3 linked regions of the Homo sapiens genome follow. The protein of the gene in region 1 purifies or fractionates together with the protein of each later gene. This does not show direct contact. Each region holds a gene or a part of one and is shown in the gene's direction. Other genes may lie near its edges. The genes, in order: PDK3, ACAP2 and UBR7.

Region 1 (3,823 bases):
GCAACCTCCACCTCCTGGGTTCAGGCGATTCTCCTGCCTCAGCCTCCTGAGTAGCTGGGACTACAGTCTCCCACCACCTCGCCCAGCTAATTTTTGTAGTAGAGATGGGGTTTCGCCATGTTGGCCAGGCTGATCATGAATTCCTGACCTCAAGTGATCCACCTGCCTCAGCCTCCCAAAGTGCTGGGATTACAGGCGTGAGCCACTGTGCCCGGCCTTGGAATGTGCTTTTAAAAAAATGATAAAATTTTGCTTTAAAATGCTAAAAAAGCATTAGTCAAAAATTAGAATATTTCTATTATTATCCAAACATATAAGACATGTTTTTGCAGGGTGAAAATAAAGGGGTTGTTTGCCATAGAAGAGGATATACATCATTGTAAAGGTTGAGTCAGTAATTTATTTGATTTAAATCTGAATCAAGAATTTATTTTAACCTTCTCTGAATGGTCATCATATAAAATGTGTTAGCATTTGTGCCTGTCTCACTGTATTAATTTTCTTTTCTCAATAGGCTGGATTTGGTTATGGTTTGCCAATTTCCCGTCTGTATGCTAGATATTTTCAAGGAGATCTGAAACTGTATTCCATGGAAGGAGTGGGTACTGATGCTGTCATTTATTTGAAGGTACTGCGTTTTATTTGTTAGTATGAGGCATCTTTGCTTTTTAAAGCTGTAAGTTCTAATCGCTGATTGAGAACAGCACTGTATCATCTCTTAGATTCATCTCAGATTTACTTCATTTTCCCATGAAAACCATGTTATGCCTCACGCTTGATTCTATGCTCAGATAAAGCAAAATATGAAACGTGGAGGTATAGAAATTAAAATACTGATTTTGGCCGGGCGTGGTGGCACATGCCTGTAATCTCAGGACTTTGGGAGGCTGAGGTGGGTGGATCACCTGAGGTCAGGAGTTCGAGACCAGCCTGGCCAACATGGTGAAACCCCATGTCTACTAAAAGTACAAAAAATTAGCTGATGTGGTGGTGCACGCCTGTAGTCCCAGCTACTCAGGAGGCTGAGGCAGGAGAGTCATTTGAACCCGGGAGGCAGAGGTTGCAGTGAGCCAAGATGGTGCCACTGCACTCCAGCCTGGGCGACAGAATGAGACTCCATCTCAAAAGAGAAAAAAAAAAATTAAAATACTGATTTTTAAAACCATAATTTTAAATTGTGACTTAAAAAACTACATGCCTATTGAAAGGTCTGATCTAAAAGAAGGCAGATTTTCATAAACTGAAGTATTTTGGTCTTTTGTTTTAAAAACTCACTGGCTTTCCCAAAGCTACAAGAATTCAGTAATCATAATATGGTTATGTAAAAGATTCATTTAATAACAAACTTCTCTGTAACACAGTTTTTCTTATTCATTGGTGATCATTGGGCTTTTATTTCTAAACTCTAGAATATTTGTAACATTTTTTTGAATAGGTAATATAGGCACATAATAAAAATTTAAAAGCTACAAAAGGAAAAATGAAGTCTCTCCTCCCACTGGCCCTAAACCGCCAGTTCTGTTCAGCGAAGATCACCACCGGTCTCAGCGTCTTATGGATCCTCCTAGAGTTGATTCTACATTTATAAATATGGGAAAAATAGAATTTTTCCCACATAAATGAAATTTCAGCACCTTCTTATTTTTTTTACTTTGCAATCTGTCTTAGAGATCTTTCCAGATCCATTTATGTAGAACTGGCTCATTCTTTTAAACAGTGGCATAACATGCCACTGTGGGTCAAGCATCCCTAACCCAAGAATCTGCAATCCAAAATGGTTGAAAATCTGGAACTTTTTGAGCGCCAACGTGATGCTTGCTCAAAGGTCAAGCTTAAAGGAAATGCTTATTGGAGCACCCCAGATTTCAGATTTTCAGATTAGGGATGCTTAACAGGTAAGCACAATGCAAATATTCCAAAATCGGAAAAAATCAGAACTACTTCTGGTCCCAAGCATTTCTTTCTTTCTTTTCTTTTTTTTTGTTTCTTTCTTTTTCTTTTTTTTTTTTTTTGAGATAGAGTCTCACTCTGTCACCCAGGCTGGAGTGCAGTACTGCCATCTCGGCTCACTGCAACCTCTGCCTCCTGGGTTCAAGCCATGCTCCTGCCTCAGCCTCCTGAGTAGCTGGGATTACAGGTGTGAGCCACCACACCCGGCTAATTTTTTGTATTTTTAGTAGAGACAGGGTTTCACCATGTTGGCCAGGCTGGTCTCGAACTCCTGACCTCAGGTGATCCACCTGCCTCAGCCTCCCAAAGTGCTGGGATTACAGGTGTGAGCCACTGTGCCCGGCCTGTTCCCAGGCATTTCAAAGGGATACTCAACCTATGTATGTGATACCAGAATTTAACCAGTTACTGGGAGTATTTATCTTAGATGCCCATGCATCTAAGTAATGCGATATTTAATATACTTGATGGTGTGTGTTTATAAACCTGGGATGCATGAGACTGTATCTCTTCCTGGGCCCTTTGTGAGACCAGTCACCAGGTATAGTCAAAACAGTTGAGCATCTCAAAGCAGTATGAGCTGAATTAAAATATGTTTTGTTCTGGTCATGTGTATTTCAGTTCTGATTTTGAATGAGCAAATGTTTTCATTCCTTTAAAAAAGCTTTAATGTTTTCCTGGCCAGTCTAAGTAAACTACTAAGGTGTAATTTTAATATCATTTTGAAAATATGTATTAAGGTTTCTGATGTTTTAAATAATAAAATTTGGGTTACTATTTCACTTGAGAAAAATGACACTGTCGACCTTTGGTGTATATTTTTGTTTCTCCAATAGGCTCTTTCAAGTGAGTCATTTGAGAGACTTCCAGTTTTTAATAAGTCCGCATGGCGCCATTACAAGACCACGCCTGAAGCCGATGATTGGAGCAATCCCAGCAGTGAACCCAGGGATGCTTCAAAATACAAAGCAAAACAGTAATATACCACCTTGATTTCCATTACAAAGTATCTGATTTGTCTGAATAAAGGTGTCCCACTCACTGTTCCAGGAATTCTTGCAGTGTAGAGGTATTCACAACAGCAAGCAGGGATTTGGCCTGCCATCAATTTTATTTAAAAAGCAATTAAGTTTGCAGTTTGTCCTCATAAACGTTGTAGGTTGAAACTGAAAAATAAGTTAAAATGATCAATCAAGATAAAAGGTGATCTATCCATCCAATGGAATATTATTTGGCCTTAAAAAGGAAGGACATTCTGATATGTGCTGCAACATGGGTGAATCTTGAAGTCATTATGCTAAGTGAAATAAACCAGACATAAAAGGACAAATACTATGATTCCACTTATGTGAAGTACCTAGAGTAGTCAAATGCAGAGACACAAAGTGGAAGGGAGGTTGCCAGGGGCTAGCGACGAAGATGGAATGGGGAGGCATTGTTTCATGGGTACAAAGTTTCAGGTGGAAAGATGAAAAACTTCTGGAGATGGATGGTGGTGATGCTTGCACAACAGCGTGAATGTACTCAATGCCACTGAACTGTACATGTAGCAATGGTTAAGATGGTAAGTTCTGGGCTGGGTGTGGTGGCTCACGCCTGTAATCCCAACACTTTGGGAGGCTGAGGCTGGATGATCTCTTGAAGCCAGGAGTTCAAGACCAGCCTAGGCAACATAGTGAGACCTCTGTCTCAGCAAAAAATTTAAAAAGGTAAAATTAGCCGTGTGTGGTGGTGTGGGTCTGTAGTCCTAGCTACTCAGGAAGCTGAGGCGGGAGGATCACTTGAGCCCAGGACTTCCAGGCTGTAGTGAGCTATGATTCGCACCACTGCACACCAGCCTGGGGGACAGAATAAGACCGTGTCTCAAATAAGA
Region 2 (3,823 bases), on another chromosome or scaffold:
CCAAAGTGCTGGGATTACAGGTGTGAGCCACCATGCCCTGTCTATACTGTTAATTTCTAAAGATGCTAAAGAGATCAAGATATCTCTTGATGGGTTACGAAAAACAGTATGTCATCACGCTATACTTAGCCAGACGGTCAGAAAGTTATATTAAGACTTTAGAAGGCTGGGTGTGTGGCTCACACCTGTAATCTCAGCATTTTGGGAGGCTGAGACAGAAGGATCACTTGAGGCCATGAGTTTGAGACCAGCCTGGGGAACGGAACGAAATTGTTTGATTGTTTTTGAGACAAACAAAAACTTCAGACAGTGAAAGTGAGAGAACTTAGACTTAAGCCCTTTGATTATAGTACTGAAGAGGCAAATGGTACAATTAAAATAGCCAACATTTACTGAATGATCGATATGTGGCACTGTGTTAACCGGACAACTTCATCAGATCTGTGTGTTATGTTCATTTTAAAGTGAGAAAGCTGGGACCTAAATCCAGGAAGTTTGCCTCCAGATTCTCACTCAGAGCCACTATGCTGTTAGAACACCCTGTATATTCATTTTTATAGATACGCCCGTGTTTTTTAGGTTGGCTTAAAAATTACTCATTACATATAAGACATCTTTGTACTTTTTACAATCAATGGCATCTTAAAATGAAGGAGTATGGTAAATACCTGCCGTGAGGATCAGATGATAAGTATCTTAAAGTGCTTCTAGAAAAAGTGTGGATTAGAGGGGCAGGTGTTGCAAGGTGAGTACGATGAGCCTGGTCTTCAGAACCCCACCATGGCAGAACAGTGAAAACCACCAGGAGCAAAGTGTCAGTGAGGGGGAATGCTTTCGGCAGTTTTGAGAGGAGTTCCTCCACACGAAGCACCCTACCTCCCATACCTGCCTAAATCTTTCTATGTCCAACCCAAACGGCAGCTCCTTCAGGAAGTGGTCTCTGGCTATATGAGAAGATGTACATGGGAGCAATTTCCAGATTATGAAGCTATGGAACAAATACATGAAAGATGGATTTTATCACTAAAGTTATCCTCGCTCCTCTTCTGGCCTCAGTTTCTCTAAACTGAAAGGAATAGGTGGCTTAGCCTATCTCTTCCTTTTATAATTTCTGCCTCTAACCTCTTCAGATTTCTGCCAATCTGCTTTGAAAAGCAAATTTCCTTCCTCAGACCTGCAGGAGACTGCTCCTCTGGGCTGGCAGCTCAGCAGGGCGGGGCTCGGGGAGCAGGAGAAGAGGCGGGGGCTCGGAGGGAAGCGCGGCCGCAGCCACGTGACTTCCTTCCCAAGGAACCTCAGCTGCCGGCCTCCCAGCAACCGGTGCGTCCCGCCTAGCGACGCCCGCGCATCCCGGTTGGCCCTCGGGGGCGGTTGTGGCAAGGAGGTGCCCACGGTCGCGCTGCTCATTGGCTCGGGTTGCCGTCGCTCAGACCCGTTGCCCGGGCGCCCGCAGGCGGTGCTGCCGGATGCCCCGCCCCTTGGCCGCCAGGTTCGTGGCTGGCTGGCCGCTGCTGTCACTCCCCGGCCGTTTCCCTGCGGCCAGCGCTCTACTTGGGGCGGGAGGAAGAGGGGCGGGACTGGGGCCTGACTAGTCGTCGCCGTCTTCGCGGCTGCTATGACCAGCGGGCGAGGCGCCCTTCGCAGCTCCGCGCAACGCTAGTCGCGGCCGTGCGCCCGCCGTAGCCGTCTGCGTCCCAGCGCGGCCGCTCCCGCGGCCCCCTCGGCTTTGCCAGCGCCGCCTGCGAGGCGGAGGCAGGATGAAGATGACTGTGGATTTCGAGGAGTGTCTGAAGGACTCGCCCCGCTTCAGGTAACCGGCACGGCCGCCCGGCGTCACCGCGGAGCTGCCTTCCCGGCGCTGGGGGCGTGAAAGCCGGGCCCGCGCACCCGGAGGAGGCCCCGCCGTCCGCTCCTTCCGACGGGGCGAGCGGCTGTTGCCGCCGTTTCCCACCCTGCGAGGGCACTGCAGTCCCCACCGAGCCCTCCCGAGGGGCGACGAAGTGGCGGGGACGGGGACGTCGCCTCTCATTTCTTTCCTTGCCCTCTGCCGGGGCGGAGCGCCCCGAAGGCCGGCGCACCCTCTCCCGCTGGGGGAAATGGGGTGCAGCCGCGCTCCCGAAGTCCCGTCCCCTTCGCGGGCGCTCGCTCTCGCCCCCTTCCTCCTCTGGCTGCTCTTCCTTCCCCCTTCCTTCCGCCCCTTCTTGGTTTCCACCCCCTCCCCACCCCCTCTTTGAGGGAGCTTTCAGGGCATCCTCTTGCAGTTCATTTAGTTCCTCTTTGCGCTTTTCTGCCCCCCTTCCCCGGGGAGGAGAGAGTAGGGGGCGAACTGGGACGCCGACTTCTGCTTCGCGGTGCCCCCGGCCAGAGCGACTCTCCGGAGGGCGCCCGCGGTGGATGCGTGCGGGAATCGCGGGGGGAAGCGCTGTGATCAACCGCATTCCGTGGACCCTAGTTGGTGACTACCTGCTTTTCTTTCCACTTAAGCTCGTTGAAGGGGGCACAGCTGTCGAGAGGTACCGGGCTGAGGGCGGAGGACTAGCAGAAAAGTGCATTTCTGTTTTGAGAACGGAAGTAGGAGGGCCGTGAAGATTGCCTGTGTGTTCCTCTTCCAGCAGCCTCTGCCCAGGAGGGCCCGGATCACAGTCGGATGCTCCCAGTGGATCTGTCACAGAGTTGACATGGGGGCACTCCGATTCACATGGGTTGCCCTTCTTTCTATGTGAGAGGCGGTCGTCCTGAGGCCGTCCAGGACACAGGTTCTTTCTGTTTTGAGGATAGTAGGAAAGTCTTGAGTTGTTTTGGACAATGGAGTTTTTCTAGGTTGCGTTTTACAGTGTATTTATTTACAGGGCTGGTCATAGTCCTTACAAATATAAGGCCTTAACACTTCCGTTAGATAGTGACATTTCTTGAAGCTTCCTCTGAGCACTGGCGTGTGTGTGCCCGCTAATGTCTGGGCCAAGCCTGGATTGTAAATTGCATCCTCTGCCTGGGAACTAACTGTTCTCATCCTTAACACTGTTAATTGGATTTCTTATTCTCCTTTCAGCGAAAAAGAAAAGAATTGTAAAACTAAGGAACTGCTACTTAGAGAAAATTTAAGAACGCTTTTTGCGTTTGCCCTTTGATGATTTTTGGGTATTAATTTTATTGGAGCCTAGGGCTATTATTTAAAAAAACCCACTTCCTTTGATAGCTGTTGTTGCGATTCATTTTTGAAACTTTTATGTTCTGCATTATTGAAGGACTCAAGAGACACAAATAGATTTCCTAGGACAGGCGTGCAGGTTGGTTTCCAGGACAGCATGGCAAGTGGAGTAATTTTTAAAGTGCACCTTAGAAAGTTCAGCTTTTTGTGAAATTTTGTTACTATGACTCAGCTATTTATTTTTAAGTGAAATAATCACAGCATTTTTCCCTTAGAAGATGTAGCTTTGAACTCCCTTTGTTTCACATTAATTTTTTTTTTTTTTTAAGTTGAGAGAAGTGATTTGGAAATACTTCTAGCTACTGGGGTTGGTCACAAACCATGTGATGTCTTTGTTTTTGAAATAAAGAAATCATTGAATATAAAATAAGAGGGCAACATACTGATTAAGTTGTAGGGAATATTATAGTGAACTTTTGTTAAACTTGATTGTAACATAAATTCTATGTTAATTAAAATATTACAGGTTTTCAGGAGTTGTTTCCCATATTCCAATTATTGTTAGCTGCAAATTGGGAAGAGATGCCAAAATTTCAATAACTTCAACATCTTATATACATTTTGGGGACAAATTAGATTTGCAATAGAGGGAAGACTGCCGAGAAATAGAAGTTT
Region 3 (3,500 bases), on another chromosome or scaffold:
CAGTGGTTCACAGGAAACCACTAGAGGAGAAAATACCCCCAAACCCTTGATTGAAGGCTTTTACATCCCCCCACCACCACCCAGCTGCAGCAGGCCAAACTTATTTCAGTGGTTTCTATCCCAGCCATTTCCACTTGGATGCCACCACTTTTATGTGACTTTTATAGCATCAGTCATTTCTGTCTTTTATTATTTATTTATTTATTTTGAGACAGGGTCTTGCTCTGTTGCCCAGGCTGGAGTGCAATGGTGCATTCTCAGCTCACTGCAACCTCTGCTGCCCAGGCTCAAGTGATTCTCCTGCCTCAGTCTCTCAAGTAGCTGTGACCACAGACGCATGCCACTGCGCCCCCCCAATTTTTTTTTTTTTTTTGAGATGGAGTCTCACTCTGTCACCCAGGCTGGAGTGCAGTGGCGCGATCTCGGCTCACTGCAACCTCTGCCTCCCAGGTTCAAGTGATTCTCCTGCCTCAGCCTCCCAAGTAGCTGGGATTACAGGCACCTGCCACCATGCTTGGCTAATTTACTTTGTATTTTTAGTAGAGACAAGGTTTTACCATGTTGGCCAAGCTGGTTTCGAACTTCTGACCTCAGGTGATCTACCTGCCTTGGCCTCCCAAAGTACTGGGATTACAGGCATGAGCCACCATGCCCAGTCCCCACTAATTTTTGTATTTTTAGTAGAGTCAGGGTTTCACCATGTCACCCAGGCTGGTCTCGAACTCCCGAGCTGAGGTGATCCACCTGCCTCAGCCTCCCAAAGTGCTGGGATTACAGGTGCAAGCCACTGCACCTGGCCGTGTCTTTTATTTATAATTATTAATTTCTTTTTGCCTTTATTAGAGTAAAAACTTTTCAAGGATAGAGGATGCACCTAAAAGATACTTGTAGCCCTCAAGGTACCTTGTACATAATATAAACTGTTAAGTGAGTCAGTTTGCTTGGGCTGGGCGCCATGGCTCACGCCTGTAATCCCAGCACTTTGGGAGGCCAAGGCAGGTGGATCACCTGAGGTCAGGAGTTCAAGACCAGCCTGGCTGACGTGGTGAAACCCTGTCTCTACTAAAAATATAAAAAAGTAGCCAGGCATGGTGGCGCGTGCCTGTAGTCCCAGCTACTCGGGAGGCGGAGGTTGCAGTGAGCCGAGATCGTGCCACTGCATTCCAGCCTGGGTGACAGAGTGAGACTCCATCTCAAAAAATAAAATAAATTAAATTAAATTAAATATTCAACAAGTCCAAGGTTATTTCAGCTACCAGAATTCCAGAGAAATAGGAAGCCCTTTTAAAAATTCTTAATCTTTATGGGATTAGGATATCTCTGCTTTTTATGCTTTTTAAAAAATTTTGCTTTTTTTTTTTTTAATGAAAAAGGGTCTCATATCAACATGGTAGACGTACAGATAATTTGGGAACGAGTTTCTATGCAGCTTTCACTTAAGAAAATTTTTATTTAGACTACATTATTAACAGACTCAGGTGTCAATGGCAAAGAATATTTTGTTTTTGAAAGCAAATGGTTTATCTAAACTTAAATACTTTTGTGGTTTTGATTTAGAATACAATGATTTGAAGACTGAACTTAAAGACTATCTCAAGAGATTTGCTGATGAAGGCACGGTATGTTGAGTTAAAGAATTCTAATCATAGCCCTGTAAGTTTTGAATGAAGGGTTTATTTCCTTTGACGATTAAAAATGACTGCGACTGGCGGGGTGCGGTGGCTCACACCTGTAATCCCAGTACTTTGGGAGGCCAATGTGGGTGGATCACAAGGTCAGGAGTTCAAGACCAGCCTAGCCAATATGGTGAAACCCCATCTCTACTAAAAATACGAAAATTAGCCAGGCGTGGTGATGGGCGCCTGTAGTCCCAGCTACTAGGGAGGCTGAGGCAGGAGACTCACTTGAACCCAGGAGGCGGAGGTTGTAGTGAGCCGAGAACACGCCACTGCACCCCAGCCTGGGCGACAGAGCAAGACCCTATTTCAAAAAAAAAAAAATGACTGCGACTTAAGTGGGTACTTGAGAGTTGAATTCAGGGACTGTTTTGAGCAAATTGGCAGGCTAAGGGGAATGAATAAGAGGTAGTGAAACATCAGAGTTACATTGGCAGTCCTTACCAACCCCAGCTAAGCCGGGAAGAATGATGGGAGGGCGCAGTCCCACAGCCTCTGAGAGAGTACTTGTAGCTTAGCAGAAGGTCATTGGAAGGAATCCGCAGTACTGATTCTGCTGGTCCTGACCTTGAAGCATGGATCTTTGGGACGGGGAGGGGAAAATGACTGGACAGGAAAAATTAACACCAGACCCAGTTTCTGGAATTCTAAGTTCCATGGTTTAGAATAGAAACTGGGCATGGTGGCCGGGTGCAGTGGCTCACGCCTTAATCCCAGCACTTTAGGAGGCTGAGGTGGGTGGATCACCTGAGGTCAGGAGTTCAAGACCAGCCTGGCCAACATGGTGAAACCTTGTCTCTACAAAAATACACAAATTAGCTGGGTATGAGGGCGGGTGCCTGTAATCCCAGCTACTCCGAGGCTGAGGCAGGAGAAACGCTTGAACCCCACAGGTGGAGGTTGCAGTGAGCCAAGATTGTGCTATTGCACTCCAGCCTGGGTGACAGAGCAAGACTCCATCTCAAAAAAAAAAAAAAAAAAAAGAACTGGGCATGGCGGCTTGTACCTGTAGTTTCAGCTACTTGGGAGGCTGGCTTGAGCCCTGCTTTCTTAGAAGATGTCATCTCTGTCTACCTACTTTAGGTCATTTTTTCCTTTTTTTTCTTTTTTGGGGTGGGGGGCGTTCCTGAGTTTATTTGGGGCACACCCGGGCGAGGGCCCTGCCCCTAGAAGAACGTGTTGGGCCTCTTGGTGGTGAAGCGTGGCTTGGGCTGACGGGCAGGACCCGGTGGGGCAGCGGGAAACTTGATCTTGGAGTCGTGGAACTGCTTGATGGCCGGCCGGCTGGCGGCACTTGCTGGCTGCGATCTCCTTCACCTTCAGGATCTCGATGGAATGGGCCCAGGTGCGGTGCCAGGCGCCCATAGACCTCTCGGTAGCACTGGGTAACAGCGCCCGCGGTGGTCAGGTCCCGGTATTCCCGGTACATGTTGGGGGCGCCGCTCCGGGAGTCATAGCTCAGCCAGATGCCGAAGTTCTTGACCCGCGGTGGGGACTTCTCAAACACCTGCCCACAGTAGACAATCTCCCCTGAAGACTTCTTCATCTTTTTTAACTGAGATACGAAGTACCAGAAGTCCCGGGACTTGGCGACAACGTGATTAGGCGCAAAGATTCGCATGTGGTAGAGGGGCGGTGTGTGGCATTTGGGGGTGGGCAGGCAGTGACCCACCACCTTGTACTCTCATAGTGTGCCCGAGGCCTTCATGGCGTCCTCTCCGCGCTCGCCACCACCCGCAAAAGGTTAGGTCGTTTTTTTCTTTGTCATAGATGTGGGAAGAACATTTAACTGCCTGAATTTCTGGACAGGGTCACAGTGCTGCC

Evidence for each region.
Region 2: the proteins of PDK3 (region 1) and ACAP2 purify together in Homo sapiens (affinity purification with mass spectrometry; one large-scale study listed by BioGRID and IntAct). This does not show direct contact.
Region 3: the proteins of PDK3 (region 1) and UBR7 purify together in Homo sapiens (affinity purification with mass spectrometry; one large-scale study listed by BioGRID and IntAct). This does not show direct contact.

Annotation. Positions count from the first base shown.
Region 1 is NC_000023.11:24,531,143-24,534,965, forward strand, and holds the end of PDK3 (pyruvate dehydrogenase kinase, isozyme 3 isoform 2 precursor), read left to right. Parts: intron 1-514; coding exon 515-628; intron 629-2,786; coding exon 2,787-2,930; 3' UTR 2,931-3,280; downstream 3,281-3,823. UniProt on the Homo sapiens protein: Inhibits pyruvate dehydrogenase activity by phosphorylation of the E1 subunit PDHA1, and thereby regulates glucose metabolism and aerobic respiration. Can also phosphorylate PDHA2.
Region 2 is NC_000003.12:195,440,782-195,444,604, reverse strand, and holds the start of ACAP2 (arf-GAP with coiled-coil, ANK repeat and PH domain-containing protein 2), read left to right. Parts: upstream 1-1,584; 5' UTR 1,585-1,757; coding exon 1,758-1,810; intron 1,811-2,328; exon of another isoform or gene 2,329-2,455; intron 2,456-3,823. UniProt on the Homo sapiens protein: GTPase-activating protein (GAP) for ADP ribosylation factor 6 (ARF6). Doesn't show GAP activity for RAB35.
Region 3 is NC_000014.9:93,220,756-93,224,255, forward strand, and holds part of UBR7 (putative E3 ubiquitin-protein ligase UBR7), read left to right. Parts: intron 1-1,557; coding exon 1,558-1,619; intron 1,620-2,793; exon of another isoform or gene 2,794-3,420; intron 3,421-3,500. UniProt on the Homo sapiens protein: E3 ubiquitin-protein ligase which is a component of the N-end rule pathway. Recognizes and binds to proteins bearing specific N-terminal residues that are destabilizing according to the N-end rule, leading to their ubiquitination and subsequent degradation.